4 separate regions of the Homo sapiens genome follow, and all the other regions are linked to region 2. Evidence: fine-mapped expression QTL. A gene starts in region 2. Each other region holds a variant in brackets. All regions are shown on one strand. Distances are between the middles of the regions. Region 1 overlaps PLXDC2 (plexin domain containing 2). Region 2 holds the start of PLXDC2 (plexin domain containing 2). Region 3 holds the start of LOC102724082 (a long non-coding RNA gene). Region 4 overlaps MALRD1 (MAM and LDL receptor class A domain containing 1).

Region 1 (8,112 bases), 300 kb after region 2:
AAGCTGAATCTGCTGCTTTTTCTCTCAGAAGGCATATGTCTAGCAAAGGAAACAAGTCAACACACAAAAAATATATATGTAGGCATCCAAAATATTCCACATACCAGAAAAAAAGATGAAAAGTGACAGGAAAGTTCAAGGGAACACAAGACATCTGCCTGGCAGGGATGGAGACTGCTCAGGAAGAAGACAAAGCTGGAGAGAAGGTGAGATTTTTGGCAGGTGGTGTTATGCAAGGAGGGGTGCTCTCCAGAAAAGGGAAGCAGAGATGAGAGCATGCAGGAAGGAATTGGAGAAAAAGAATGAAGAATAGAAGGCCTGCCCTTGCCTATCCTGGAGAGAAGACAGGATAGATTAATTAGTGCTGGGTCAAGGAGGGCAGTGAATGACAGACAGTACCACTTAACACTTATCCTCCCCTTTCACCATAAATTTGTTGTCTCTCCCGCAATCTTTCTCACAAGTAATAACAGGGAATGGCTTGATCAGAAATTGTCTCCTTATTTATTTGCCTCAATGGTAGTATTTATACTGTGGAATCCCCTTTTTTTGGAAATCACCTTCATTGATTTCTGTAATGCCATCTTTCCTGGCATATTCCTGCCTTCTCTGGCTCCCTCCCACTCTCAGGCATCACCAAGACTGGTCTCAGCAGCCTGCCCCCTGGCTCGGCTCTGAACGCCGGTCACTGTCACAGTCAGCCCCTCCTTGTGCCCCCACACTGTTCCTCCCGGCAGCTGACCTTGGAGGACCTCAGGATTGGGGAATCAGCATCTCCTCTCCTAACCCTTGCTCTCTAGTTCATCAATCTTTCTATTTTTCTCCCAGTTTTTCAGGATCTCTGCATGTTACAATTATCTTTGTTTCGTTTTGTTTTTGATCGGCCTTGCTCTTTTATTCCCCACACAGACTCTGTTTGAGCCATCCCTCCCTTTCCATTCTCTCTGCCAACAGCCAAGTTCCATGTCACCTCACACTTGTACTACTCCAGTCACCTCTGACACCTATTGGGCTCCCTTGTCTATGCTCACCCCCTGACCAGGGTACCCACATAATTCTACCAAACAAAAATAGTGTCTTTACTTTCTCTCCTGCCTAGTTATACAACAGAAATCAGCCAGCATTTATGGAGAACCATGGTGGGCTGCACAGAACACTAGGCAGATGGGGTTATGATGACAGATACGTCCCCTGCTCTAGAGGAATGTTCAGTTTTGTGTGGGTGATAGACTTGCAAACCATTGTACTCACAATGGAATACCTTCTAAAGTGCCTTAACATGTCTCGTATCATTTTCTAGTACTTTCACATCAGCTTATTAATTTTAACCTTGATGGTAAATCCCTCATGCCATTTGTTAATGATTCAATGACTCTATTTACTTTAAAAACAGAAGTATTTATTTTACACACACCAGCAACTAATATTACAATATTTTATCATTTTACAGATAAGGACACTTTTTAAATTTGGATTTCTGAAAATAATTATCTTGTGATTCAGAAAAAAATACATTTTCCTTGGACCATAGGTGTTCTCTAAGTAAATTATACACATACATATACTAACATTTGGTTTAGTTTAGTTCAAAAGATAAAACAAAAATGTCAAACTGAAATGTTTGTTTTCTCAATAAACAGTGTAAAAAGAATCACACTGTAATCATTGCAGGAAAGACATGTTTACTTCATTTTCAAACTAGTTAAGGATGACCAAATATATTTTGTAAACTTTGCATGAAATCCCAAGATGCGAGTCTCACGGTTACTCCTTCTTGTAAGAAAGTTCATTCTCCCAGAGGACAAGTATTTTGAGATTCTTCTAACATCCAGAAAGTTCACAGATCCTAACGTATACTTCAAGTAATTTCTAACACTGGCAATATTTTGATTAACAGTTTTTTAACTAAATGTCTGCATTCTTCCCAAATTCATATGCTGAAACCCCTTTCCCAATGTGACCATATTTGAAGATGAGACTTTGGAGAGGTAATTAGGGTTATACGAATTTATTGAGGGGGAGACTCATGGTGGGATTAATGCTCTCTTATGAAGAGTCATTAATGCCCTCTTACAAAGAGTCATTGTCTCTCCATCTGCATATACCATGTGAGGACACAGCAAGAAGGTCTGTGTCCTCTGCAAGAAGGTCCGTCTGCAAGTCAGGAAGAGAGCCCTCCCCAGAACCTGACCATGCTGGCTCCCTGATTTCTGACTTCCAGCCTCCAGAATTGTAAGAGAATAAATTTCTGTTGTTTAAGCCATCCAGTCTATGATATTTAGTTATGGTAGTCTGAAAAGACCAAGATAGCAATTGAATTATATTTGAAAGTCACTCACAAAGTTTTTCAGTTACTGAACTTAAATTGTTCACATAGGAAAATGAAAAAAAAAAAAAAGGTTCTACTTTCCAATTAGTATTCACTCTGACATTAGCCTCATTTTGGATTTCAAATTTCTCCTCTTCCTGAATGTACAGACTTGATCACTGTTTTCCTGAAATAAAGAATTCTCCCTTGAGCTCTGACTCGATGTCCTCCTCTCCATCATCCCCTGCTTCAGTGAGACAGTATCCCATGGGCATATTTAGTGACCTTTTTAATTTGTTAAGCTGTCATATTTGTTCATCTGTATTAAGTTGGGAACCCTCAGAACACACTTCTATCACGGTGGATTTATAACACTTAGAGAGTTCTGCTTTATAGATTTTTAAGTATAGAAATTTTCTCACTTTGCCTTAATTTAACATTATGTTAATACTTAGGCTACCTTAGTTTATTCGAAAGATAAGACCACATGAAAGTTGGAAAGAAAATTTTTACCGTGGAATATATGTGCTGTAGCTCTTTATACAATACTTGTGAAGTACTAATATTATAGACAAACACATTGCCAACAGGAAAATTAATGCTTTTATCAAATAAGCTCATTGCTTAAGGTTTTCTTTAGACTATGGAAAAATAAGTCAAAATGAAATAAAATGACCCTTGAAGTGATATCTTTTTATTTCATGGAAGAGTAGTTTGCCAGTGTGTGTTCATGCATCTTCATCTTATCAGGTACAGAGATGCAAATTCAGTTTCATGGTTAGTTTAGCAGGTAGTCCCTCCCATCTGTAGGCTTTGCAATGGAGAATACTGATCAGAGGAATCGGATTCTTTTCCCAGATCTCCAGACTTTTCACTTCAAAGTGCAACGGCTTAATGCAAAGACAACTGCCTCAACAGGTAGATGTTCAGTGATGGAAAACCACCAAATGACTCTTTTTATTGTAAT[AC/A]CTTACACTGTATGGGTTACAGAAATTGGGTTAGCTTTCTTAGCTTGCTAGCTAGCTTGCTTGCCAAGATTGGGTTAACTTTTACTCTAAACAAGCCTTCAAACCCAAATTTAGCTTTTTTCTTCCAATTTCCTTGCTGTAGTAACTGGTACCATCATCTTCCATTGAACGCCTTCCTCAGCCCTTTCGCCCTTTATCCAATAAGCCATCAGGACGTTGGTTCTACTTTTGAAAAACTCTCTAATGTGTCTACTTCTGCCCACTCCACTCCTAATTGCAGCCAATTCCATCCTTCCATGGGTTCCTGAGATAGACAGCGAATTATTCTCTCATTTCAACAGTGAACCCCTCCTTACTCATTTTCTACACATTCTGGCTGAATGAACTTACTATTTAAAAAAAAATTTTTTTGAACCACTTCAGCTGCATAAACAATAGATAATGTGGAAAACACTAGTGTACCCATTCCCTAGTTTGAAGGGGAAAAATAAAAAAACAGACACAGTTGATTTTGCCATGTACCCTTCTCAATTTTTTCCTCCATTCTTCTTTGGAAGAAAACATTCTCCTTAATGTGGTGCTTATCAGAATGCTCTTCCAATTAAGCAAATGTGGCTGGGTGTGGTGTCTCATGCATGTAACCCCAGCACTTTGGGAGGCTGAGGTGGGTGGATCACTGAAGGTCAGGAGTTAGAGATCAACCTGACCAACATGGTGAAACCCTGTCTACTAAAAATATAAAAATTAGTTAGGCATGATGGCAGGTGCCTGTAATCTCAGCTACTCAGGAGGCTGAGGCAGGGGGATTGCTAGAACCTGGGAGGTGGAGGTTGCAGTGAGCCGAGATTGTGCCACTGCACTACAGCCTGAGTGACAGAGTGAGACCCCATGTCAAAACAAAATAAAATAAAACAGAAAACAATTAGGCAAATCTGGTCAAGTCTTTGTTGAACTCTTCAGTGTTTGGCCATTGCCTTTGAAAAACATCCCCAAACTTTTGCTGTGGGCTGGCATAGCCTTCCACCATCTGACCTCAGCCTGTTGCTCTCTGGCCACATCATGCACCGTTCTCTGTGAAGTCCGGAGAAGGCTTTTCTCTCTACTTTAGCCCTAATGCCCAGCACAATACTTTAAACATACTAAGCAGTCAATGATTACTTGTAAATCCAGTGAGTACACGGATCAATGTCAGACGCTGTGTTGAAATACAAACATGAAAATGTTATGGTCCCTGTCCTCTGGGGTCTGTAAGAGGTGGTGAGAGAGGGGAATAGACCTAGGAATGGATGTGAAAACAAACAATTTTAACTCAGTGTGAGAAGACCTGTAACAGACGTCTGAATGAGCACAGGTGTGGACCACAAAGGGTGTAATCAGGCCTTCTGGGTTTGTGGAGAATGAAAGAAGTCTTCACAGACGAGGAGAAGCTTAAAAGATGAATAGGATTTTTCAGGGCACAGAAGCAGGAAAGTATATTTCAGGCAGAAACAGCAGCCTGTGAAAATGCATAAACCCATGGTACCTGGAGAGAACTGTGAGTATCTGGAGCACAGGATACATCTGGAGGGGTGGTGAGAGGTAAAGTTGAAGAGCCAGGCAGTGACCAGACCAGGGAGGGCTTTACATGGCAAGCTGCTGTGTTTGAAAATTCAGCAATTCACACTTGAAACCCAATGTATGACTTATGTATTGTGCCAAGTAAAGCACTGAATACAAAGATGAGTAAACTGACCCGTCTATCCTTAAAAGCTAGCTCATCCAACCAATGAGGAGATAAATAAATCCGCAATGCAATTTTTTTTTACCACTTTCTCTTCAAATACAGTTGTTTCCTGAATGGCTAGATTCTGATGACATTGGGGATTTGTCATTTTTGTAGACATTGGATAGTAGTCGTGTTGCCATAAACCAGAGGGCCAGCACGTTACTCTTTCACCTGTCACCGGCACACCCAGGAGGAGTGTTCATGTCAAGTCTTTAGAAACCTTCAGCATTGCAAAGCTTATAAAGGATAGCAAAGGCCACTTGAGAGGTATTTGCAACCTTGACTCATGTCAGCTTGTCCTCTTCCTTTTGCGAGATGGTCTGGGCTGAGTGTGGGGCACCTAAGCTGACCCCTTATCTAAGGCCAGAAATAAGTAGCCACACACTGGAGCTGTTTCAGCCCCTATTTGGTAACAACAGTAGAGATCACTTTTTTAGCTTAACGAGGGTCATCTTTCTCAATAATGTGTAAATAGTCCTAAGGGTGATTATGTAATAAATATATACCCTTCACATGTTAGTACATAAAAACCCATTATATCTTTCCTGAGAGAGGATTTAAATAGGCAGGAGAGAATTAATAGTCATACTTACCCGGGTAGAGTTTTTGACAATGGCAATGTAAGAAATGCACAGTGTTGAAGATTAGACAATGAACTCTAGAACATTTTGTCTACGCCTCCCCCATACTTCCCATATCTAAAATTTGTGAAAAGGTTAAAATACTATTACATTTTATTTAAATAATTTTAAAAAGTATTATTTTAGTACGATTGAGTGTCTTCTCTAATATAGGCTTGCCCCAGTTTCGTGAAGCTTTGAGCACTTAGACAAGGTGCACTGTCATGGTCAGGTCAGGTTATCCGGGATAAATCCTACCTTCAGCCATCTTGACTGGTGCACTCACACATTAAACGGGAGCTGCAGATAAATGTCCATGGAAAGAATTCCTCGCAGCACGATGACCCTTTTTATTCTCTTCTTTAGCAGATAGAAAGTGGAATTTTTAAAAAGTCATCCTTCAGTTCTGATTGGTCTGAACCAGTTACACAAAAGTGTGTTTGAGATGTGGATTCACGCTGCTCCTCTACAAAAGCTGCATGTTAGGAAACCAGGTTATCAATCACAAAAGACCTTGCATGCCTTCCTGCAGTCCCCTTTCAGAAGTGCCTCTTTTCAACCTAAGGAGATCATAGCTTTGCCCCCAAGCCTTTCTGTAGATGTAAATGTAAAGGTGCTATGGGAAAAATAACCCTAAGATTCTTTTTCCCCCCCGGAAAACAGTAAAATATTGAAGCTGCACTTGGAAGGTCTTTTTCTCTTGGTTGCACCAGTTAAACTAAGAGGAGATGTAGTGTTGTTATTACTTATCTGTTCTCGGGTTGTCCCACAGTTCTGGTTCTATTGCCTGCCTTTTTTTTCCATATACCCATTTCTCCCTGTTATCAGTAATCTGCTCTGGGCAAAGTCACAGTAAATCGAGAAGTTAATAAGCCATTTTTTTTTTGAGAGCACTTCTTAATGCTTTACTTTGGTTGGATAATCAGATGTTAAGGTTTAATAGAAGTAAAAAGGTTGTTAAGGGAATGGAAAAATAAGTTATTTAATGAAGTAACATTAGAAGTAAGGTATTTGGATACCTACAGATTGGTGGCTTGAAAGAAATGTACCTGTTTCTCTCCAAAGTGTGTATGATGTCACTAGAAGTAAGAAGACATAGAAAGGAGAAATTTGAAGTCAGAATTGTTGTTTGTAAGCAATGACATCCCTTCTAAATGTTCTACAAAATATTTTATTCAGTCTTACAAAAATTTTTTTGATAGTTGTTTTAGGTCTCTGACTTGTATTTTGCTTATTGCCTAATTGCAAGTAAATTCTACAGATTGTTATTTATCATTTAGGTATCTATTTTAAAGGAAGAGTTTATTGTTTCTGTGTTAAAATAATGCACAATGAATAAAAATGAAAAAATAAATAAAATATTTAAAGACTGGAAGAAAAAATATATTCTCATTTTCAGACAATATAATTATCACATACTAAATCCCTTAAAAATGAAAAAAAAAAATAGTTCAGCAGTTGAGCGAGATTGTAGAATATAAAATCAATATATAAAGTCAGTTGTGTTTCTGAATACACAGTCAGAAAATATAATTGAACATAAAGTTTTCAATAACAGTAGCTTCAAAAGAGCTAAATAAATCAAAAGACATATAAAGATTATGTGAAGGATGTTGTGAAAAATGTCATAAAAAATTAAAAGATTTCCAAGAGTACATAAATAAATAATGACAAATACCATGTTCATGGATTGGGGAATTCAAAATTAAAAGAAATGAATTCCTCTCAAACCGACTTATAACTCCAATGCAATTTCAGTCAAAATATAATATGATTATCTTATGTGTTTGTGTGTGCATGCGTGTGTGTGAGTGCACATGTATACTGACAAAATTTATATGAGAGAACAAAGGAACAGTGATTTTCACACATTCAAGGCAGACAGTTGATGGACTCTTGATTCGCCAGGTCTAAAGACATAACAAGGAAACATGGAGCCATCCACACAGGGATAAACAAGTTGACCGATGAATCAGAGTTGACTCCTGAAAAAATCCCATATATTTATGAAAATTCAACTATGTATTGCCCAGCAGTAAGAATAGGATGGAATTTTCAAAAAAGTGAGTCATGGATATGGCTAGAAGGACTTAGGGCTTCTTTCAGTCTCTCCCTGTTCTCAGTAATTGCAGTGCTTCCTAAAATAGAGTTGATGAATTTTATGAGGAACACATTATGTCTGTGAAAATAAATGCATTTTTGAAAATCTCAGTCAAGATGAAATTAACCAAGATATTGAAAGGTATGTGTATCTGGGTCAACAAAATGAAAAAGACCACGGCTGAAATGCTTTTAGACTAAGTAAGCTGGATGCTTCCTGGATTTTACTGCAGTTCAGATTTAAAGATACTCGATATGTGTTTTGTATTGATGTATAAAATCAATGTACTTTAACATGCCATCTCTTTCTGTCTCCGTCTCTATATATGTAGCTACATGTATACATATGTG
Region 2 (8,112 bases):
AGCTGTTAAGTGAGTTTTAAAAAGATGTTTATTCAATTCAAACACATAATTGATAAAATTTTCACCTTAAAACTATAAAGAACAAAAAGCTGGAATATCCATCAACAGTACAATAGAATTACAGTTTATTCTGAGAGCAGATCAGCCAAGACGAACAAATGAGTCTTGTAATTGCATACCAGAGGTCAAAAAATTAGCCTTACCAAATGAGGAGGGAGAGGAAATGCTGAGACCTAGAGGAAAGGTCATAATATTTGGACTGAATAAAAGCATTTCACTAATAGCAATTTCCCTTTATCTGACAGCAATTGTAGAAAGTTTTAACAAATCCTGTTAAAATGGACAAAAACTATTTCCTGAATAGTTAAGAAAAGATTATAATAAATGCCAAGTATTCTACAGCATGTATAGAATCTCATTTCCAAGTGAGCATGCTGTTTTCTTCAGCATCCTGTTAGCCAAGTTCCAATTTTGGACAGGTCCTAGGAAACACAACATTGTTAAAGACAGAGATGATACGAGGTGATTAATTGTAAGTACATTTCTATAGATAGTATTGCACTTGGAGTGTGTAAAAATCTCTCTGAAGATTGGTAGAGATAAGGGTTGTAAACAGGTTTGAAATCCACACAGTGATAGCTCACATGCTAATCTTTGCCCAAAGTTCTATGTTGTTGAGAATGATTCTGATATATTATTTTAAAGGAGAGAGTGTCGTATGAATTCCAGATCTTTGTCATGGACAAAGAATCTAAGTGCTATTCATTTGTGGTTCCTGATTCATTTGTTCCTTGAGAGATTAGCTAAAATTAAGAGTAGGTGAAAGAACCACCAATTCCTTTCCTATGTCTATAGTGAATACAAACAGCCGTTACTACGTCTCTCCCTCATGTCAGATGGAAGATGTAACATCTTCCACAAATACTTACTTTGTTACTACAAAATGGAAAGAGACACTTCTACTGTGGTGAAATGTGTATGGCAAACCCAAATAATTTAGGCCACAAAATACCCTAGTTTAGCCAGAATTATGAGTAATCTACTTTTTCCATTTCACTCTGAACATACTGTCCTACATACATTTTATTTATTCGTTCCTTGCTACAGTGTAAAGGCAGAATATACTTTAAAAAAATAATCATTCATCAACATTTAAGGCAAATGATCAGAGCTTGAGTTTATTGTTATACAATGTTGCTCTTTCTTCTTTATTTCTGAACAGCAAATCTCATCAAGCATGATTGAGTTTTGCTTACTTGTATCTTCTCCCTTACTTCCGCATTTACTATGTGTATAGCTCTTCAGAATAAAATTAAGATAGGAGTAAACCAATACAATTCAGCAGCATCAGTGACATAACCAAACATATAAAAGTCCTTCCTGACTGACCCTGAATGACCATTTACCCCCTTTCAAATTTTGACATCAAATTTCTACTTACAAAAAGTATATAGTTTCAATCAGGTGGTCAAAGCATTGATGACCGCAAGTAACAAGAAAAATGAACCCTGCGAATACGCACATAAAATAATAAAGGAAAAAAGAAAGAAAATGATAGCAAGGAGAGGTGGAGATTTGCTTGTTCTCAGAGGAGGAAACACCTATTTTTCTACTGTGAAAGAAGGAGAAATAACTCGGTCTGAAAAAAGAGGTGCTTTCTTGAAATGGTTTCCGCTGGATTCCCCATTATTTTAGATATGATGGGAGCTGGAGTTGTGCAGAATATTTTGGGACGCTTTCCGCATGGATTTATGATCCTCAAAAAGAATCGGCATCAATTAAACTATAGTTGACCCTTGAACAGTATGGGGGTCAGGGGGACGGACCCCCACACAGTAGAAAATTAATGTATAATTTCGACTCCTCATAAACTTAACTGCTAATACCCTACTGTTGATTAGAAGCATTACTGATAATATAAAAACAGTTGATTAACACATATTTGGTATGTTCTACATATTACATACTGTATTCTTAAAATAAAGTAAGCTAGAGAAAAGAAAATGTTAAGAAAATCATAAGGAAGATAAATATACTTACTGTTTATTAAGTGGAAGTGGATCATCAGAAAGGCTTTCATCCTCATCGTCTTCACATTGAGTGGGCTGAAGCGGAGGAAGAGGAGGGGTTAGTCTTGCTCTGTTAGGGGTGGCAGAGGAGGAAGAAAATCCATGCAAAAGCGGATCCTCGCAGTTCAAACCCCTGTTGTTCAAGGGTCAACCGCACAATCAGGTTTTGATGAGAAGACTCAGTTTTCAAACTTGATTTTAAGCAGGTATATATCCGGGTACTCAAATTCGGATGTAATATTACATAGAACTTAAACACTCCTAGTTAAGCAGAAATAGAAAAACCCAGTTACCTAAGTAGAAATCAACCTATGGGAGGAAAGCTCAGGAAAGAGCCAGGGTCCTGGCATAATAAAGAGTATAGGCATGATATATGTTTGTGTTTATACGTGTATATCTGTTGTTTGGAAATAAAGAGCAAATTGAGTATTGGATTAAGGGAAACCTTTCTTGTTTCCCATGAGAGAGCCGTCCTTTGAGCATCACATTTGCAAAGGTAGATTGATTATCCGGATCCACTTCCAGTGGGTTTTGTGGCAAGCCGAGACATCTATTGACAGCATCCATAGACTCTTCAGAGCTTGGAGTGGAAAGGACCTTGAACTTAGAACACATGCACATTTATTATGTGATTGAAGTCGTCTTCTCTCACTTTTGCTTCAGTAAACACTTAAACAAAGCCATGTACTTTGCGGTAGGCAATGTTCTATATTTATTAAATATACAGTTAACTCATCCAATCCATTGCAACCACCTTATAAGGGCGTTACTCTAATTCTCTCCATTTGATGGATGGATAACTGAGGCTAGGAGATAAACTGCTCATTGCGGGGGAGGTGAAATTCCAGCCCAGGCTGTCCGGGCTCTAGATCCTGTACTTTTAACCAATAGCGCTTTGCTTCTTTTCCTTGTATTTATCCCTTTCAAAAATGATTAACTGTATGCAAAATAAGATATCAACTAACGAGAGGGCCGGCAAGGGTTAACGCGGAAACAGATCCCCGAGCTGAAAAAACAAAAACAAACTGGGGAGCCAGAGCCCCTGAAAGCTCCGGTAGGAAATTCAATGGGCCTCCTGTTCCTTTAAACTCTCGCTTTCGCCCCCGCTGACACTTTGCAAAGCCGCGGCGGCAGCGGCGGGGACCACGCTGCGGTGCACCACCTTCCGCCACCCTCCCGCGCTGGGCTGGGGTCGAGGGGGCTTCGCAGAGTCGGTAACCGAACCGGCTCTGGTTTGCTTTCTCCACTCCCTAGCCACTACCAGAACCAGCCTCCGCGAAGGGGCGAGCTGTGGTTAACCCTTTCGTGCCCAGGGAGACCCCGCCAGGGTCGGGGCGGGGCGCGATCGCCCCCCGCAGTCGGGCGCGAAGGCGGCCCGGGAGCCAGGTGGGTGTGGGGCGCAGTTGGCGGAGCTGCCCAGGGCGTGCGAGCAGGCTGCGAGGATGGCGCCCCGGCGGCGCGGAGGTACCGCCCCGCGCTCCCCCGATAGCTCCCCGGCCTGTCCCCTCTCCCCGCGCTCTGGGGCAGCCGGCTGCCTGGGGCGCACGGGGCTGGAGTGGCCCTCTCCCTCCCCTTCGCTAGGCTCCCCCGGCTTAATCTGTTGGCCGCGACTCCTCAGCCAGCCCCGAGGAAAGTGCAGCCATTGGACAGGTCTGTGCGGGCTGCCGGTTTCAGGGAGGAAGGTGGGAGAAGCCTGGAGGAGCGAAGGGGAGGGCGGAGGGAGGAGGGAGGAGGGTGCGGCGGCAGATCTGGCAAATTGCGAGCTGCCTTCCCTCCTCAAAGTGTGGAGAAGGAGCGCGGGGGAGCGTGGCGACGGCAGCGCCTCCTCCGCCACCAAACTCCTGGGGCTCCGCGGGGGCTTGGGGCCACCTCCTCCTGAGCCCGGAGGAACCCTCTCCCGATAGGTTCCAGCGTGACTCCCTCCCACTCCACCCTTTTCCTTTCTTCTTCCTCTTTTTTTTTTTTTTTTTTAAACACATTTTTTTCCTGGCTTCGGACCTCAGACTGCTGCAGCCCTAACCTTCCCAGGGCTCAGCTCTTTGGAGCTGCCCATTCCTCCGGCTGCGAGAAAGGACGCGCGCCCTGCGTCGGGCGAAGAAAAGAAGCAAAACTTGTCGGGAGGGTTTCGTCATCAACCTCCTTCCCGCAAACCTAAACCTCCTGCCGGGGCCATCCCTAGACAGAGGAAAGTTCCTGCAGAGCCGACCAGCCCTAGTGGATCTGGGGCAGGCAGCGGCGCTGGCTGTGGAATTAGATCTGTTTTGAACCCAGTGGAGCGCATCGCTGGGGCTCGGAAGTCACCGTCCGCGGGCACCGGGTTGGCGCTGCCCGAGTGGAACCGACAGTTTGCGAGCCTCGGCTGCAAGTGGCCTCTCCTCCCCGCGGTTGTTGTTCAGTGTCGGGTGAGGGCTGCGAGTGTGGCAAGTTGCAAAGAGAGCCTCAGAGGTCCGAAGAGCGCTGCGCTCCTACTCGCGTTCGCTTCTTCCTCTTCTCGGTTCCCTACTGTGAAATCGCAGCGACATTTACAAAGGCCTCCGGGTCCTACCGAGACCGATCCGCAGCGTTTGGCCCGGTCGTGCCTATTGCATCGGGAGCCCCCGAGCACCGGCGAAGGACTGGCGGGTGGGGTAGGGAGGTGGCGGCGGCGGCATGGCGAGGTTCCCGAAGGCCGACCTGGCCGCTGCAGGAGTTATGTTACTTTGCCACTTCTTCACGGACCAGTTTCAGTTCGCCGATGGGAAACCCGGAGACCAAATCCTTGGTAAGTAAGATGCACTTTAGCTTGCTGATTTTGTGCGCAGCTGAAGACCTCTCTGGCACTCTCGTGCTCCCTACCCTCTCCCCCCAACATCACCTATCTGCCCTTGGGAAACTTATTGCAGTTGCTTTTCGGCTAAACTTAGGCTTCCCAAATGGGGAAAGAGGGTTATCAAGAGAAGGACGCCGGGGACTAGGGGTTTTCTTGAGGCTTTCGGGCTTACTTCACCTGGGCGGCAGGGGGTGGTACTGTCTCCCCAAAGTAGCCCAGGGAGGGCTTCAGTGTGAGAGCAAAGCTTCTTCCGTGGATACATCTCCTAGGACCTGGCATCTCCAGGCTGTGTGCTCTCCGGCTCCTCCTCCTTCCTCGCTGCTGGTTAAACTAAGCGTGTGTGGTATGGGGTGGGTGGGGGACGTTGTGAAAGCCAGGGATTGCAGGTCTCCCCTCTGCACGAGAAAATTCCCTGTGGCAGCACCTTCCTTCCCCTGGCGATCCCCACTAGCTCCGTCTAGTGACCTGGGCCAAGCGGGCGCTGGAAGGGGGGCGGGGTAAATGCGGCCGGCGCAGAGGTGGGGAGCAGGTGGGAAAGGTGGAGGCGGGCTCGCCTCTGGAGACCTACCCCTGCTCCCATTGTCCTCCGCCTGCCAGCTTCACAGACAGGCCTGAACGCGCAGAGAGTTCCTTGGAGTGCCCTGATTTTGTCCCCGAGAGGGCCCCCAACCTCCGCATCCTCTTAGTGGCTGTCCTGGCAGGTGCGCGTCCTGCGGGGAGTTGCGCCCCGGGGGCTATCGCCGAGCGGGAGCTGCCTCCTGGAACCCTGCCCACCGCGAACTGGGTGCCTACTCCCCATTTCTGCCTTTCAGTGAAGAAAGTGAAGACACAGGCAGAAAGAGATCTTGGCAGAAATTGGTGAACTAGGGTGGACTTCGAGAGGAGGTGAAACGAGAGAAAAAGAAAAAAGAAAAAACTTGGAGGGAAAAGAAAAGAAAACGAAAACTTTCTCCCTAGGATAATCAATTTGTCAATTTGTTCTTTTCTGGTGTGTGTGTGTGTGTGTGTGTGTGTGTGTGTGTGTGTGTGTGTGTAATTTAAATGATTGCCCGGAAAGTATGCATGCGTCCTCAACAGTCAACTAGAGAGTCACAGATGGAAGGTTGGGGGACACCTGGGGATTCCAGGCAAGGTGAATCTTGAAGATCTTGAAGGAAACCCTTGAGTGAAATTTACCAAGCCGCGACTTAGAAGACAGTCACAACACTTCGCCTGTCCCTGGTGTAAACTGTTCTAGATAAAGCACAGATACTGACTCTGCGCTCTTATTTATGGTTGAAGGGGTGTGTGTGTTGGGGTGTATGTGCAGGGAGGCAATAGGATGACAACACTTTTAAAGCTGAGAACAAAATGCAGATTTCTTGGGTGTTGACTTGTCTTTGTCACATTTAATTGTTCTGCATTAATGGACATAGGTTGTTCTTGACTGTGTATGATTTATGACAGTAGACTATGCCTTTTGTTTATTTCTCTGATACGTTTCATTGGTCCGAAAAAATAACACTTTTAGCCTTCCAGGAAAGGACACAGTTATTTAAAAATTGCAACAGTAATTTTCATGTACTTATTCACGGTATGAATAGATGCTTAATAAAAACAATTAACTCCACCACAAACGAGGTTAAAAGGATGTGTGTGCCAATGTGCATCCCAAGTTGTTTATTTAAAAACTTCTTTGGCACTAGGAATAAATAATGCATTTGCAGTAAAGGAAAAAAAAATAAATGCCAGCAAATGTTTATCTTTTTATAAACCTGTTCCAGTAACGTTACTGAAAAAAGAATATATGTATACACACACACACACACACACACACACACACACAATACACACACATTTGCTATGCCAAGAAGTTCAGAAATTGAGGATGAAATTCATCCCAAAGTAAGATTGGCCATATAATTAAAAGCCCTTGCTGTGGGAAATATAAAATACTTAAAATGTTCAACATCAGTGTACTGGTATTTTAAGCTAGTTGAATATTTCTGATGGGAAATATACTCTAGAAACCCATATATTGATAGGATTGATTTTTAAAAGAATGGTTTTAAATTCCTTGCCAAATTTTCGAAGACTTTTATAAACAGAAGTAGCTTCTTTCCTGGACATCATTTACATGTAGTTTTATGAAAAAAATATTGTAATTAAATGGTTAGCTTACTGAATATATAAAAAAAGCAAGGTGAAACAGAAAAAAGTATACAACTTTATTTGTAAAATAGTCTATATAAAAATTCAGTATGGGGGGAAAAGTCCAGCAGTCTTGACGTTTGTCATGCAACAATCAGGATCTTTATTACAGACATGTTGGCACAGGAACAACATCTGATTTCATAACAGGGACATTTTATTATGCGTTACTTTAGTAAATGCTGCAGTTGATTTCATTGCCACCAGAGGGCAGATAAACTGCTAATTTCCTCTATTATTCCCTTTTCTGTTTTAGAGGGAAGTAGTTTATGTTTATCATATAATTTACACTTATTTTAGTTGTTCTTCTCTGGTTGAATATTTTTCTGTTATTTCCTGCTTTTGTTGGAGTTAAACAATTTACTTTGAAATATTACTCATTTGTAGAGTTTGTTATGAGAGTGTTGCTGTTGAGACATAATCACTAAAGTTTCTGTTTACATATAAACCTAGAGCACAGTGATATAATAGAGGGGTTAATTCAAGTGAACATTTATTGTAAAATGGACATCTGTCATATTGTTGGACAAAAGACAGGTTGATTATTTTATCAATCAATGACTTGAGGCTACCTGCAAAATTTTAAAAATATGAAATATGAGTTTCTTTTTCCTTTAGAGAACAGATACAAGTTTTGGAGCTTGAGGTTGGGTAAGTTTGGACTGAGACATAATTGTAGTGTAGAACATTTATATCAAAGGTAATTTTTGTTGTTGTTGTTCATGGATGTCTGCCTAGAGGTTTGGAATTATTATAATCAGGAGAATTTGCACATTTCAGTGTGATCTTCAGAAATAAACTCTTGTCAGGGAGAATGTATTTGAATAAAACTTAATAATGAAAGATAATAATTTTGCTCCAGACAGGTTTCTTCACTGTAAGCATCAGATACTCACAGAGTATGTAGAAAATATGTGTCCGGCCGGGCGCGGTGGCTCACGCCTGTAATCCCAGCACTTTGGGAGGCCGAGGCGGGTGGATCATGAGGTCAGGAGATCGAGACCATCCTGGCTAACAAGGTGAGACCCCGTCTCTACTAAAAAT
Region 3 (8,112 bases), 350 kb before region 2:
CTTGATATAATTTGTTAAATATACTCTTTATAGAAGAATCCATACATTTAAGCCTGCACTTTAAATGAAACTTTACTTATTGGCAGGATGAAGTACGCAATGCTTCTCAAATGACAAAATAGGCTTATTTGAAGTAACTAAATCCCTGCAAATATTGATTAACAAAAAGTGTCAAAGTCATGTTTAAAAATAGCTTGTTATAATTAGTTTATCTCCTGATTATATGTTCTCTTCCAACTTACTTATCAATATTAATAACATGTCCATACATAAATTGATATTTTACTAACTATATATCATATATGGATACAAAGATTAATTTTGACTTTTCAGTGAAAGGTAACTGGTTTTTATTGATTGAAGAATTTTGATTATCAAAAGGTAAGAATGGTGACATCTTTGTCATTGATTTATAAACAGATGCTGTCTTTTTGAAAATGTATCACCGCATGTGGTAGAGATATTTACTCTTTGAATGACATCAGTTTCTTTCCCGCATGTTTCCCTTTTAGTTAAACGGGTCAATAAGAATCAGAATTGGCCAATGTGCTGTGAGGAAGTAGCATGTGTCATTTCCAGTTGAAATATTTAAAATGTAGTGTACAATTTTCATCGTTACAGATTTATTTTGAATTCAAAAGTAAGTCTCATCAGGTCTCCCTTGCATGTTAAAAGGGGCCTTATATCCCAGATAGTATATCTACATCTGCCTCATCTTCCTGAATCTGTAGATGAGAATCTCTTAGCCAACTTGTTTTTTAGATATGTATAGTTGAGTTATATATATATATATATGTGCGTATATATATAGTATTTTTTAAGATTTAAGTGGTATTTTAAAAGTATATCATCAAGCCCATCCTAACACACAGTGCAATCTACTACCTAACACACAATGCAATATTACATAAAGAGACATTATTTAACATTGAGTTTTCCAGTTTCTCTACCTTGGAAGCAAATACATTTGCTGTATTTAAGGTCACAGTCTCAGGATTATGGTTGCTTAATTAATAAACAAAAAGAAATCACAACCAAGCTATCAATCCTTTGCAGGTTTATTCAACCTGAAGATGTAAGAGAGAAGTATACTTACCTTCAGATTCTAATAGTCTAAAGGTGTTAACCAAAAGCTCCCAGCATTCCTGGGTTCAGCCTTTTGAGGAAGTACCCTCAGTGAATAAAGTTGACACTAAACAAAATTCTTAACGAAGAGGTGGAGATAGTCTTTGTGACATCAACCCTCTACATTCAGTCATTGCCAGTTATAAATCTAACTTTCTTTTATTGCTTGAATTGATTTGAGACAGGCTTCAGAAGAGAGACTTCATTGCCATGATCAACTAACTGCATTGTTCTTCATTAAGCCTTAGAGCCCAATTACTTGTTTCTTATAAAATCAGGGACTAGTTCTTTTTTTCTGGTCCAAGGCCATTCTTTAAACAAAAGAACTATGTGATTGAGTTTATTATACTTTTAATCAGTGATTTTAAATTAAAAAAGTCAAAGCCATGGATGAATCTAATTACTTTAACATTGTATTCAAGTAAACCATTTGTTACGTACCTTGAAATCATCAAATACTGCTTTATCTCTCAATAAAATTAAGAGAATTAGCATCTGAATGTTAAAAAGGTCTATATTTAAAAATGTAATTTAAATCATATTATAATGATAAATATTACTATTAATATAATTATATTTAATTATAATCCAAGCACAATGATATAACTTGGTTCATTTACATTATTAAGAAAAAATAATTATTTGACCAGACATTTTAGTAAGGCTTAAATAGCCCTTGAAATATCCCTAGGTTCAAATAGAGGCAACTGTAAATCTGAATGTTAACATTATCCTCAGTTCATGTAATTTCTAATTAGAATTTGTTTCAATGACAATGAAAATTTTCATATTTAGGATCTAGGTCAGTAGGACCATTGCATAGAGTTTTTGTGATGATATGGTGTTTCCATTTTTACTGAACTATATTTTACTTATTTTCACTCAAAATGAATATTGATGTTTATCAAGAAGGCTCCTACTTTATACTCATATATAATTTTTCCACTACATAATTGAAGTATATGTCATTTAGTCCTGAAATATCGGTACAGATATATACTAGTATATAAGATGTATAAGCTACAGTTGAACTTGAGTAGATGTGGAACACATGAAAATTACATCTAGTTGAGCCAAACATAAAGAAACAGTTAACAACCAAATCTACAGATATTTATACATGCACAAATATTAAGCCAGGACTAGAAACCAATTTTCTTGTCTATTCCACTTAATGGAACGCACACACAAATGCACATACGCACACACAGATTTTTTTTTTTTTACTGTAACATATAAGTTTCTGAAAAACCTCATGTTTTGAATAATATGAAAAGAAGAAAGCCTTTGGAAAAATAGTATTGGAGCAAGCCACTGAAATCATAGGTAATCTAGTTACCCAGCACTAATATAAACACTAGCAATCATATTCAAGCTGCTAGTACAGTTTAAAGTATCTGAATTCCTAGTAAATAGAGGAACTTTTGAGTAAATGTATGACTCTACCTAAAACAGTGGGGGTGGATGGGAGGCAAGGACCCTTGAGGTAAACATAGTATAAAATGTTTAAGGCTGTTGAATTTTGAAGGCAAGAGCAAATTACCCGAAGACCAGGAGAACTAGGCAATAAAGAAGCACTTTCAAAAGAAAGCACATGGATAACTCATCTGAAAACGTTGGTTGAAGCACACTCTGCGCAGTCCGGGAATTCCTGTATGACTTGCTGAGCTCAGCTGTGCAAGTACTCTTTGGTTTCATCTGCTGTATGTTGGTGCTACAAGAATTATTGTAGTGGTCAAAATCATGGACCAATCAAAACAACTTCTGGTTATAGTAACCTAATTCCTCCACTGATCCGTTGCATACATGCCTACTTGTTTAATTGTTTTACAGAAGCATGCATTGAATAAGTGACAATCAAGACAATGGAAGGAAATGAATAGATATTGAAAAATCAATGGGCGACAAGATCATACTAGACCCAGCATATACACAATCTCATTTAAGAGGGGAATAAGAATGTTTAGTATGGAATGGATTCTTGAAGGATTTGAGTCAAATGACTCACACAAATTGTCTGGAAAGTTGTCTCAGAGGAACTGGGAAATGAAGAGTTTAAAATCGTTGATTAAAAGGTCAGGAAGGAGTTCAGAGAAAGAAACCAAGTGTGCTTGGAGTTTTTTCCACTAGGTTACTTTTTGGTCTTTTAGTCTTTGTACATTCTAATGATAATTTCTTGGAAATCTCTATGTTAACTAGATTTACTCTAACTGCCAACACTGTCAAACGTAAAAGGAGTTCATGTAAAGGTACAAGGAATCACATCAATCAAGAATATGGTACAACGTCAGGAAGATATGGAAATCAAAGATTAAAAAGTGAGAGGGGGTAGGGGCAGTGGCTCACATCTGTAATCCTACACTGTGGGGGGAGGCTGAGGCAGGAAGATCACTTGAGCTCAGAAGTTCAGCTTGGGCAACATAGTGAGACCCCATCTCTACAAAAAATTTTAAAAATTGGCTGGTGTGGTGGTGTACACCTGTGGTCCCAGCTACTTAGAAAGCCGAGGCAAGAAGATCACTTGAGCCTGGGAGGTTGAGGCTGCAGTGAGTCATGATCTCACCACTGCACCCCAACCTGGGTGACAGAAACTGTGTGTTTCAGCTCATCTATTTAATTTCCCTTTCTGTGGAACGTCCATCTCTACTTTACCGTACATAAAGAAAACATGACTCCGGGGAATACACGAGCCTGGACACATTGTTGCAGGCATCCTTTAGTTTTATTTCTAAATTCTCTGACCTATCTTGGGTCAAATGGTCACCCTCAGACTAGTTATTGTAGAGAGACGGCAGGATACATTAGACAAACATGCCTACTGGAACTCCACCTTGGTGACCTTATTGATGAAGGAGTGTCACCAGAATAGGGGAGCTGGGTATACAAATCATATTCACTATGTCTTATTTTCTGTATTCTGATGCTTCCTAGCAATAGTAAAGCACTTCCTCTTGAGTGCATTTTTCAAATGCAAACCAACCACTCTAGAGCCCACATCTCCACCTACTTCCTTTATGAAGCCGTCACACTCAGAGCCACTATCTACCTGC[C/T]CTAATCATCCTAGGTTTAATTACCAGAGACTAGGAAGAGCCACCATGCCCCCGAGTTTACTGAAATTATTCAAACTAGCCAATTGTAAATCTGCTTCTCATAGAAACTGCAATAAAGGCGCTTGCCCACAATTTTGCATCTCCTTCTGCCTCCGGATCAATCCGAGTGTTTGCCTGTGCAGCCTCCCTACAGTGAAGTGTTCTCCCTTCACTCAGGTTCTGTGAGTATAAAAACCTATCTTTTCCATGGCAGTCATTTCCTGATCTGTGGGCCTCACCATGCCTAAATATTACTAAAACCTAAATGAAAACACAAATCCACTATAAGCTCATTGAAAATCTATTCTTAGAACATGATATTTTGCATTCAATAAATATTAATACAGTACCTCCTACTAGCAAGTATAGAAGGATATTACACAGATAAGTTGATTATTCTAATAGATGGCTAGTCCAATAGTGAGGATAAAAAGTAATGAACTGCACTAGAGCAGTACAGTGAGAGTGGAGACGGAGAGGGGGCTGCCTGAAATATTGTGAGAGGAATGATAATTCAAGAGTTTGCTTTAGCTCTGGTTATTATAGCTTTCATCTGGCTGGCAAGAAAAAATAAGGCAGGGAAAGAGGCAAAGGAAGGACACATACCTGGTGTCTTTTAAAATTGTTTTCTTGAAGCTTTTGTGTATTAATTATACTTACAATGAATTAACCAAAATTTAGTTGCGTGGTTAAATCATAAGGAAATCTACGAAATGTGTTTATTCAAAACTAAGTTGTATTACTAGGAAAGAGGAAGGGAATATATATTTGTATAGAGAACCAATAGCCTACCACAATTTCTTATAAGGTAATTTCTTTTATTTTTAAATTTAATTTTAATTTTATTTATTATTTCCATAGGTTTTCGGGGAATAGGTGGTGTTTGGTTACATGAGTACGTTCTTTAGTGGTGATTTGAGAGATTTTGGTGCACCCATCACGTGAACAGTACACAGTGAACCCAATTTGTAGTTTTTTAATCCCTCATCTCTCTTCCACCTCCCACCCTTTCCCGAGTCCTCAAAGTCCATTGTATCATTCTTATGATACAATGCATCCTCTGCATCCTCTGCATCCTCATAGCTTAGCTCCCACTTACGAGTAAGAGCATAGGATGTTTGGTTTCCATTCCCAAGTTAGTTTACTTAGAATAACAGTCTCTAGTTCCATCCAGGTTGCTGCAAATGCCAAATGCCACTAATTCGTTCCCTTTCGTGGCTGAGTAGTGTGTGTGTGTGTGTGTGTGTGTGTGTGTGTGTGTGTATATACTCTTTCTTTATCTACTCATTGACTGGTGGGCATTTGGTTACATATTTTTGAAACTGTCAACTGTGCTGCTATAAACATGCGTGTGCAAGTATCTTTTTTCGTATAATTACTTCTTTTCCTCTGGGTAGATACCCAGTAGTGGGATTGCTGGATCAAATGGTATTTCTACTCTTGGTTCTTTAAGGACTATTCACACTGTTTTCCATAGTGGTTGTACTAGTTTACATTCCCACCAGCAGTGTAAAAGTGTTCCCTTTGTGCCACATCCGCACCAACATCTATTATTTTTTGATTTTTTGATTATGGCCATTCTTGCAGTAGTAAGGTGGTATCACATTGTGGTTTTGATTTTCATTTCCCTGATCATTAGTGATGTTGAACATTTTTTCATATGTTTGTTGACCATTTGTATATCTTCTTTGGACAATTGTCTGTTTATGTCCTTAGCCTACTTTTTGATGGGATTGCTTTTTTCTTGCTAGTTTATTTGAGTTCATTGTAGATTCTGGATATTAGTCCTTTGTCAGAGGTATATATTGTGAAGATTTTTCTCCCATTCTGTAGGTTGTCTGTTTACTCTGCTCACTGTTCCTTTTGCTATGCAGCAGCTCTTTAATTTAGTCCCACCTGTTTATCTTTGTTTTTGTTGCATTTGCTTTTGGGTTCTTGGTCGTGAAGTCTTTGCCTAAGCCAATGGCTAGAAGGGTTTTTCCGATGTTACCTTCTAGAATTTTTATAGCTTCAGGTCTTAGATTTAAGTCCTTGATCCATCTTGAGTTGATTTTTGTATAAGGTGAGAGATGAGGACCCAGTTGCATTCTCCTACATGTGGCTTGCCAATTATCCCAGCACCATTTTTTGAATAGGGTGTCCTTTCTCTAATTTATGTTTTTGCTTGCTTTGTCAAAGATCAGTTGGCTGTAAGTATTTGGGGTTTATTTATTGGTTCTCTATTCTGTTCCATTGGTCTATGTTCCTATTTTTATACCACTACCATGCTGTTTTGGTGACTATGGCCATATAGTAAAGTTTGAAGTCAAGTAATGTGATGCCTTCAGATTTGTTCTTTTTGGTTAGTCTTGCTTTGGCTATGTGGGCTCTTTTCTGTTCCATATGAATTTTAGGATTGTTTTCTCTAGTTCTGTGAAAATGATGGTGGTATTTTCATGGGAACTACATTGAATTTGTAGATTGCTTTTGGCAGGATGGTCATTTTCACAATATTGATTCTACCCATCCCCGAACATGGGACGTGTTTCCATTTGTTTGTGTTGCCTGTAATTGCTTTCAGCAGTGTTTTATAGTTTTCCTTGTAGAGGTCTTTCACCTCCTTGGTTAGGTATAATTCCAATTTTTTTTTTTTTTTTTTTTGCAGCTCTTGTAAAAGTGGTTGAGTTCTTGATTTGATTCTCAGCTTTGTCACTGTTGTTGTATAGCAGGGCTACTGAATTATGTATATTAATTTTGTAGCCGGAAACTTTGCTGAATTTATCAGTTTTAGGAGCTTTTTGGAGGAGTCTTTAGGGTTCTCTAGGTATATGATCATATCATCAGCAAACAGTGACAGTTTGACTTCCTCCTTACCAATTTAAATGCCCTTTATTTCTTTCTCTTGTCTGAATGCTCTAGCTAGGGCTTCCAGTACTCTGTTGAATAGAAGTGGTGAGAGTGGGCATCCTTGTCTTGTTACGGTTCTCAAAGGGAATGCTTTCAACTTTTCCCCTTTCAGTATTCTGTTGGTTGTCAGTTTGTCATAAACGGTTTTTTATAAGGTAATTTCTGAGCTTAAACATATGTAAAAGTATGACTTTAACATATATTGTCAGTTAAGAATTTGTATCAAATGTAAATTTTCACCTAACCCCATGTTCTTAGGGCTGTTTCTTCACATACTCTCTGTTGAGGTTGCTTGTTGTTTGATTCTCTGGAGTCTTTTTAAAAAATTTTTTTTGAGTCATAGTCTCACTCTGTCACCCAGGCTGAAGTATAATAGCACGATCACAGCTCACTGCAGCCTAAACTTCACAGGCTCCAGCAATCCTCCCACCTCAGCCTCTCAAGTAGCCATGACCACAGGTGCATGTGCCAGCACATCCAGCTAATTTTTTGTATTTTTAATACAGACAGGATTTAGCCATGCTGCCCATGCTAGTCTCAAACTCCTGAGCTCAAGCAATCTACCTGCTTTGGCCTCCCAAAGTGCTGCGATAACTGAGCCACCATGCTTGGCCTCTCCAGAGTCTGTGGATATCTTTCCCTGTCTCTGTAATTCAAAAACCTAAACCTTTCTTATAATCCCACCACTCCCATCAGGTTCCTTTCCTTTTTCAATTTAGGTGAAATAATTTGTCAATTTCTTTAAATTCTCACCAAACTTTTTAAAAAGAAATTTCAGTTTTTTAAATAGAAAAATTTCCTAATCAAGCAGATGAAATTGTAGATTGTTTTAATTTACATCTATGATTAATAATGGGGTTGAATGTTTTTTAAAGATTCATGAGCTAATTATTAAACATTTATTTTTCTTCTTTTGAGAATTACCCATTTATTTTCTTGCCAAGAATTTCTACTGAGCTGCTTGCTTTCTTGTATTTATTCAGAAGTGGTCTGTCTTCATTAACTATATTAA
Region 4 (8,112 bases), 330 kb before region 2:
TAAGTGAAGTAACTCAGGAATGGAAAACCAAATACTGCATGTTCTCACTTAAAAGTTGGAGCTAAGCTATGGATATATGGAGTGGCATACAGAGTGGCATAAAGAACATTGGAAACTCAGAAAGAGGGAGGCTGAGAGAGTAGTTCGAGGGATGAAAAACTATCTGATGAGTGTAATGTATGTACTCTATTTGTATTATAGTTGCAGTAAAAGCCTAGACTTTATCGCTGTACAATTCATCATATAACCAAAACCATTTCCACCCCTAAACTTATGAAAATTAAAAATATTTTTAAAATAATAAAGAAGGCCGGGCACGGTGGCTCACGCCTGTAATCCCAGCACTTTGGGAGGCCAAGGCAGGCAGATCACAAGGTCAGGAGATCGAGACCATTCTGGCTAATAGGGTGAAACCCCGTCTCTACTAAAAATACAAAAAATTAGCCGGGCGTGGTGGCGGGCACCTGTAGTCCCAGCTACTGGGGAGGCTGAGGCAGGAGAATGGCATGAACCAAGGAGGCGGACCTTGCAGTGAGCCCAGATCGCGCCACTGCACTCCAGCCTGGGCGACAGAGCAAGACTCCGTCTCAATTAAAAAAAAAAAAATAGTAATAATAATAAAATAGATCAGTGTAGCTTTTTAAAAAAGCAATTAATTTTATTGATAGATATCAAAAGCCCTAAAAGAGACAAATCCATCGATACATTTTTATACCCAATAATGGCATGTTAGGAGTCTGTCTTACATAACTACTTCCAATTATGAAGAAGCTAAACATAGTTTTGTTTAAATGTAAAATACTGAAACAACTCTATGATGAATAATAATGGAATTATTAACTAAATTAGGGGTATATTCAGTTTTCATTATATTTTATAGATATTAGTGATTACTGTGAAAATCAGACAAAATATTTATGATATGATAAATATAAAGGTAGAGAAAATATTGTGTATATGTTATGATTACAAGTATTTAACCTAGTTACAAAAAAATTTAAAAAGAAAAATGCGACAAAATGTTAAAGACATTGTGTAAAGAAGGAGAGATTGTTTTTTTCTACATTATTATGTATTTAAACTCTTACTATAATAAAATATGTTTTAAAAGCTCAGAGGTTTCCATTTACTTATCACATTAAATCAAATGTCAATCTGCATTTTCAGAACCAAAAGACGTAGTTTCTCCAATACTTCACAGACCAACATACCTTTGTAAGTCTGATCAGTTTTTTTTAACTCCTGCTCACTCATGAACATCTTTGAGTCTTTGATAGTTAAAATTCTTTGTTGTGGTCTAAGCTCCTTTCATGCCTTCAATGCATCTAGATGTTTACTTGCTTAGGACTTTTCTTAGATATGTTTCCTGACTCACTGTATTCCATGGGAAAGTTCTCTTGTACTTGGAATTTCACTAGGTCTTCCATACATATATAGCAGCCTTAGAAACCCTAATTGTTTCTTTTCAGTTGATTCCAAAGCTGAATATGTGGTTTTGTCAACTAAATACCATGGTCTTCAAAAGCAGGGATTACGCCCGTTTTAATATTCTTCATGTGGTTACATGAAAAACAAAGGTACTTAGAAATGCATGTCCATATGAAACTTGCCGTCTGGAATCTCAGAGCATATTGAATGTCATCAGCTTAAGAAAGTAATAAAACAACAAGTGTTTCTTCATAAATATTATCTATATAATGATTATATCTGGTTCAGTGTAATGAACTCTGTGTACAAAACGATTTTAATCCAAATTGAAATTTATAGGATCGAGGATTTGTAAGCTCTGTTTCAAAGTAAAATGAAACTAGTTTTCAATTGATGTCACTTTCATGTTGGTGAGAGTTTGTTTAAATCTACAGTAGATTAGTCCTATATAAACCTTATGTTCTTACTGGATTAAATTTTCTTTTCTTATGGCTGCATTATTTTCCACGGCCTTCATAGGATCTTTCAGTTTCTCATGCTTTAGTTAGGTCTTTACATCTCTGTTTGTCAGTCTTTTACTAGCAAAATAAATATTCTAGTTTTTTCATATGCCATAATCTGCTGGCCAGGTTATTTTCAACTTTTATTGTGAGCACCAATGTTCCATCCATTCTTTTATCATCAAATATAGAATATGTGAGATATCTTTCATTTCATGTATTTGACAACCAGGTGAATAGTTTTTGCCTTTATCATTACCATTTTGGCTGAATAAAAAATATAAAATGGCTAAACACATGCAAAACAGTCTTTCATTAAAAAAATCTATCTTTTCAATTTGCTGTATTCTTAAAAAATATACGTGAGGCTGTTTTTTATTTGTTTATTTTTCTTTGGACACCTAATATTTCATAGATATTCTAGTCATTGTTCAGTTTACTGCAGTTCAGAGCATCACTTTATTTCTCTTCATGGCTTTGCTATTCTATATTTTGAAAGAAAATAACCCTTATTTAGAGATGTAGCCTATTTTAACTTTTTTTTTTTTTTTTTTATAAAAGCCAAAGAACCAACTATTTAGAGTGACATCAAAGCACATTTCCCCTGTGGAGTAATTATATGGCTTTACATCCTATGGCATGGAAAAATAAAATAATCTCAAATGCATAGACTTGCATATGGAAAAAATGTCCACATACTGCCCTAGGGTTAACTGTAAATTCTCGCTAGTGTTAATTAAAATTTTGTGGCAAAGTTCCTAAACTACTTGGTAAATATGACCTTTAAGTCTTTGTCTTGTTAATGCCCATAATTGGACCATTTGCTGTTGTCTTAGATGTTCTTTCTTCAGTCTTCATATTTGTATATACCAAATTTTACTGGTAAATTATTTTTGGATATCATACAGGTTTTAGCTATTGTATTATGGGCATAATCCAAAGACTCTGGATATGCACTTTTAGTCAAGTCTGTAGAGTTGTGTTCTTTTTATTTGTGGAAGTACTGCCTAATTGTCAGTAAATTACCTCCACCTCGGGTACATCACCTCTGAACCTATAATCACCTATGTAACAAAGGAACTGCTGAATTTTATTTAATTTGTTGAAGTTGATAAAAAAAATTGTAAACCTTTAATATAAGTCACTATGAATCTGTGAAGTATTGTCATTTGACTACATATCTGATGAAATAATATTTAAATATAAGAATTGCTCTAAAAATTCTATGTCAATTCACTTTTCTAAGCCCCCTTTAGATGAAAACATTGTTTCTGAAATTATGATAACCAAGGTTTATAAAGAGCCAACTATATATCAGGTTCTATGTGAGGCCCAAGAGAACACGATAAGAACTTCTGGTTCTAAGGAGCTTGGAGTCTGGGGGGACAGCCAGCCATGTATAAATAGCTCTTATATGTGATGATACTCATTGTAGTATAGGAATAAAAGGGTACTTAGGTGGCATGAAACAGAAGTGTCTCACCTGGGGCAAAGATGGCAGTGAGAAAGGCAAGACAAAAGTAGAGAGAGAGAAGTCATTTCATTGAATCATAAGTTTGGGCAGCGGGCACCTGGGGCTCTGGAGGGAATAGTCAGGGCAGACAGGAAGTAGCATCTGTGAATGCATGAAAAAACGAAGAGCAAGGGACAGATTTGTGAAACCTTCAGTCATAGGATATAGAACAATTGCAGGTACTTGAGAGTCACAGAAAATGAGACTGGAAAACTAAGCTGGAACCAAGGACAAAGGATTTTTAATGTCTTTATTAGGGGGTTTGGATTTATGTACTAGGTAATGATCAGCCTCGGTCCCCACCTGTACAACGATGGAAAGGTGTGTGGCCATGCAAAGAAGTCAAATGTCATGAATGACCTTCCTGCAGAGTTAGGATTTTTGTTAAGAATACTTTGCATTTTCTAAGAAGTAGTTTGGGTTATTACATGGGTTATTAAGATCCCGTGTACTGAAAAAATTTAGCGGGGGCGGAGGAGAAGG[C/T]GGGCTCCCAATCCGGTTCTATCCGGTTCTCCCACCATCCCCCGCCAGGGGTCTCAGCAGCTCGGAGGGTGGAGGGGCGGCAGCGCCAGGCACCGCGCACGCGCCTTTCCGGAGCCAGAATGCCCAAGAGGAAGGTCAGCTCTGCTGAAGGGGCCGCCACAGGAAAAGCCTAACAGGAGGTCAGCGCTGTTGTCAGGTAAACCTGCTCCTGCAAAAGTGCAGGCGAAGCCGAAAAAGGCAGCAGCGAAGGATACATCTTAAGACAAAAAAGCACAAACAAAAGGGAAAAGGAGAGCAAAGGGAAAACAGGCCTAAGTGGCTAACCACGAAAGTAAAGAAGAGTTAACTGCAGAAAACGGGGAAAGGAAAACTGAGGAGAGTCCAGCCTCTGATGAAGCAGGAGAGAAAGTAGCCAAGTCTGATTAATACTATGTACCATGTCTTATCAGTGGTCCCTGTCTCCCTTCTTGTACAATCCAGGGGAATATTTTTATCAACCATTTTGTAAATGCAAGTTGTTTAGTAGCAGCTCCAGAAACATTTTTAAGAAGGAGGGAATCCCATCTCATCCTATTTTTTAAGTGTAAATGCTTTTTTTTAAGAGGTGAAATCATTCGCTGGTTGTTTATTTTTTGGTACAACCAGAGAATAGTGTGGGATATTGAATTATGGGATGCTTTCACTGTCTTGGTTGTCAGCTTAACATTGCATCGGTGGGGGTTAGTTTTTATATCCTATAATACAAAGCATATTCAATGGCAATATGGAGTCACAATCTTGCATCTAACGTCTTTAGCATTTTAAATTACTTCTATTCCCATGTTGTTTTGTAGTAGAATTGTTTCCTAAAGAAAACTACTCCTTGATCGTGGCTCTGCTGTCAGAATTGTGGGCACTGTGTAGCCTCTTTGGTTGTGATAGTCCTATTTTCCTAATAACTTTGTTACTGTGCTGTGAAAGGTCAAAAATTTGCATATGTAGCATACATGCTATTCAGTTGTGAATTGGTGGGATGTAGGTAACAGCTTATCAACATGTGAAGATACTGGTACTTGATAGCCTCTTAAGGAAAATTTGCTTCCAAATTTTAAGCTGGAAAGTCACTGGAATCACTTTAAAAAAGAATTACAATATATAGGTTTTTAGATTTTTGGTACATGTCTTAGGAATTGTGTACATATTGAAATGTCTGTACTGATCCTCAACCAATACAATGTCAGTTATGAAAGAAAAAATATCTTTTTATCTTTTTTTCCTTTGTCCATTTAAAATGTTTGATTTTTCTATCTAAATTAGGTTGTGATGTGCCACTGAAATAGGCAATGTTGGCAACACAATGTCTGTTACAATAAAATACATTAGACATTTAAATAATCTTAAAAACCATGTGAAGGGACATAAACCCGGTCGATTAAATCTGGAACAATGTTTTCTGCACAAGCGAGTACAGGCATACCTCTCGTTAAAACTGATGTAAACAGTCATACCTCTGTTTAAAACTGATGTAAACAGAAGAAGCCAAGTGGGGCGGGGGGGGGGCAGGGTTATGGGGGTGAGGGTAGAGTGGGGGTACGGTGAAGGGAGGCTGAGGTGGGTGGGGGAAATGGCAAACCAAAACAACACTAACTGAGGTAGCAGGACTCTGCTCAGTGCAGAAAAATTGGCTTATGAATAAAAATTAGACTGTGATATCAAATTAAATTCAGATCATCACGCAAAAGACACAATACATGCTATTTAGTTTTAGAAAAAAACACACATTCATTTCCTGAAGTCTGCTGCCAATTAATTTTCTGACAATGTCTGCTGGCTTGACTATTTTTTTATACGAGGATGAGTATTAAACACTGTCCATACTTTTTCATCTACAAAAAATTTGCATAAAATAGTGTTAGTTCTCTGTACTTGTCAATGGACACTTTAATTATGTGTATAAAAAAGGAAAATTTTGCCCCATGGGAGTCAGGAAAAGCAAAATAAAATTTAGAGTATGAAACCTCCACCAGCCAGTATGTTTATGTGAAAATTCAGCAGAAATAGACAGTTGCTTTAACCAATAAAGTTAACATCTTCTTTATGTAAAATTTTCAGTCAAGACAGGAACATATCATTAAAATTAGTGTCTTTGCTATAGACTCAGATCACCAGGAGCATTACGAGCAGCACAAATGGCCAGGAAATCTCATCAGTGCATGCTGACAATGAGCAGGATTTGGTGGCAGGCTGCACATACCCTTTACCAGGTTCCAGGTAGTTGTGGGCCACAAATTTGAGTGTCTCATCCATGAGAATCACAGGCAAGGAGATTTTCAGCACCATCAAAGTGCATAAAAGATATTTCAGAAGTAGAGTCTATATAACTTGCTGAACCATTGAAGGTGGGACTGAGAAAGAGGAAGTTGGGGAAGTCCATCTTAGGCAACTGTTGAAATCCTTAACTTGCTTACTAGTGTGAAATCTATAAAATACCTAACAGGAATCTTCAAGTCTAATGAAAATATTGATGGAATACTGCTTTTGTTTTTTTGTTTTTCCCTAGTGGGAGAGATCTCTGAGCTTTGTCCGGAAATCACTGATTTTTTGTGCCGGGACAAGAAGTGCATTGCATCCCACCTTCTTTGTGACTATAAGCCAGACTGCTCTGATAGGTCTGATGAAGCTCACTGTGGTAAGTTTATCTATCTGCTGTATGGCAGCCAGTTCAGCAGATATTTTCCTTCATAAGTAGAGTTAGATATTGGTGTTGATGATGGAGAAGAAATATTATTTTCATGCACTAGAGTAGATTTAGAATAGCCCAAATATTTCCCCAAATTTGTATACAAGTATCAAATACAAATACAAATGACAGTACTTTCATATTCTTTACCCCATACTGAGAACAGTAACAAGTCTATAGAAAATCATTTTACCAAAAAATAATCCCATTCTGTAATTAGGCACACTGTGTGTAGGGTTAGAATTAAAGTTTCTAGGAACTGCAGTAGCAATCTGCCTTTCTTTATTGGTTGTTTTTTTTTTTCTATTTTTTTTTCCAAAAAATTGTTGATTTTGTATATGCAGCTGAAAATGATCACTTTTAATAAATACCAGTTTAGTAATTAATTTTATCAATTACATTGCACTGGAGAAAGAGGACTGGTTGGGCTCCATTGTATTTTTATTCAAGCTTTAATTCAAGCAATGTTTAAAAACATATATAAAACTAAGTATATAATTTTAAAATATGAGCAGATATTTAAATTCAAAGGATCTTTTTTCCATATATTGTACTGGAAAAAAAGGATATTTTTTCCATTTATCTTATCTTTCCTAGAGAATATTGATACCATACCAGCTACCTGTTGCAGTTACCATTTGCTGCCTAACAAGCTACCCCAGAAGTTAGTGGTCTAGGCCACTGTTACATTTTGCTCACAATTTTTTGGGTCAGTAATTCAGGAAGGGCTCTTCTGGGCAGTTTGTCTCTGATGGCCTGAGTCGAACTGATAGGGTGGAACTAGATAATCACATCCAAGATGACTTCTTCTCTTGATACTCTTTGGTCTCTCTGTCTTACTAGAGATGGTGTCTCATCCTCCAGAGTACTCCATGTGGCTTGGGCTTTACATAACATGGTAGCCACAGGGTGGTAAGCCATTGTACACAGGGCTGGCTTCTACTAGAAAGTGTCCCCCGATCCTCAGGAAAAATAGCAACAGTTACTTTGATTTAGCCTCAGATGTTGCATAATACCATACCTGATTCCTGCTAATGGCCAAGCAAATAACAAAGTCTAGACTAGACTTTCAATGAGAAAACAAAGTCTAGACTAGACTTTCAATGGGAAAATACATCAAATGTAGAGAAGGTTGTAGGGTGACCTTTTTGGAGACAAACTACCACACAAGCATATTTACATTTTTATTGTATAGCTCAATTTAATTTTTTATTTCTTAGGATCTTATACTGATGCTTCCAATGGGCTCATTTTCTATTTAAAATTTTTAATATATTTTTAAACTTTAAAAAGCTGTGGTAAAAAACACATAATAAAAAATTTACCATTTCAACCATTTAAAATGTATAATTTAATGGCATTAAGTACATTTGTATTGTTGTGCAACCACTGCCACCATCCACCTCTAGAACTATTTTCATCCAAGAAAAACAAAACCGTATTAATTAAAGAATAACACTCCATTTACC

What was found. PIP is the estimated chance that this variant, and not a neighbour inherited with it, causes the effect.
Region 1: its variant is fine-mapped to the expression of PLXDC2 in whole blood (INTERVAL, PIP above 0.99).
Region 3: its variant is fine-mapped to the expression of PLXDC2 in whole blood (TOPMed, PIP 0.96).
Region 4: its variant is fine-mapped to the expression of PLXDC2 in whole blood (INTERVAL, PIP 0.90).

What each region holds. Positions count from the first base shown.
Region 1 is chr10:20,109,955-20,118,066 of GRCh38, forward strand. The region is part of intron 4 of PLXDC2 (plexin domain containing 2); the gene reads left to right. Among named protein-coding and RNA genes, the nearest start is that of PLXDC2, 300 kb to the left of the region's middle. The variant AC/A (reference allele first, on the strand shown) is at 3,276.
Region 2 is chr10:19,812,362-19,820,473 of GRCh38, forward strand. It overlaps PLXDC2 (plexin domain containing 2), which reads left to right and starts at 4,071. Exons shown (of 14, transcript NM_032812.9): 1 at 4,071-4,830. The coding sequence starts at 4,719. LOC124902388 (a long non-coding RNA gene) reads right to left here and starts at 3,867. Exons shown (of 2, transcript XR_007062078.1): 1 at 2,041-3,867; 2 at 11-482. RefSeq lists an enhancer at 2,995-3,760.
Region 3 is chr10:19,458,115-19,466,226 of GRCh38, forward strand. All of the region lies in intron 29 of MALRD1 (MAM and LDL receptor class A domain containing 1), which reads left to right. LOC102724082 (a long non-coding RNA gene) reads right to left here and starts at 1,178. Exons shown (of 3, transcript XR_007062079.1): 1 at 1,097-1,178. The variant C/T (reference allele first, on the strand shown) is at 4,176.
Region 4 is chr10:19,485,054-19,493,165 of GRCh38, forward strand. MALRD1 (MAM and LDL receptor class A domain containing 1) reads left to right here. Exons shown (of 40, transcript NM_001142308.3): 30 at 6,464-6,592. It also overlaps the pseudogene HMGN1P20. Among named protein-coding and RNA genes, the nearest start is that of MALRD1-AS1, 240 kb to the right of the region's middle. The variant C/T (reference allele first, on the strand shown) is at 3,925.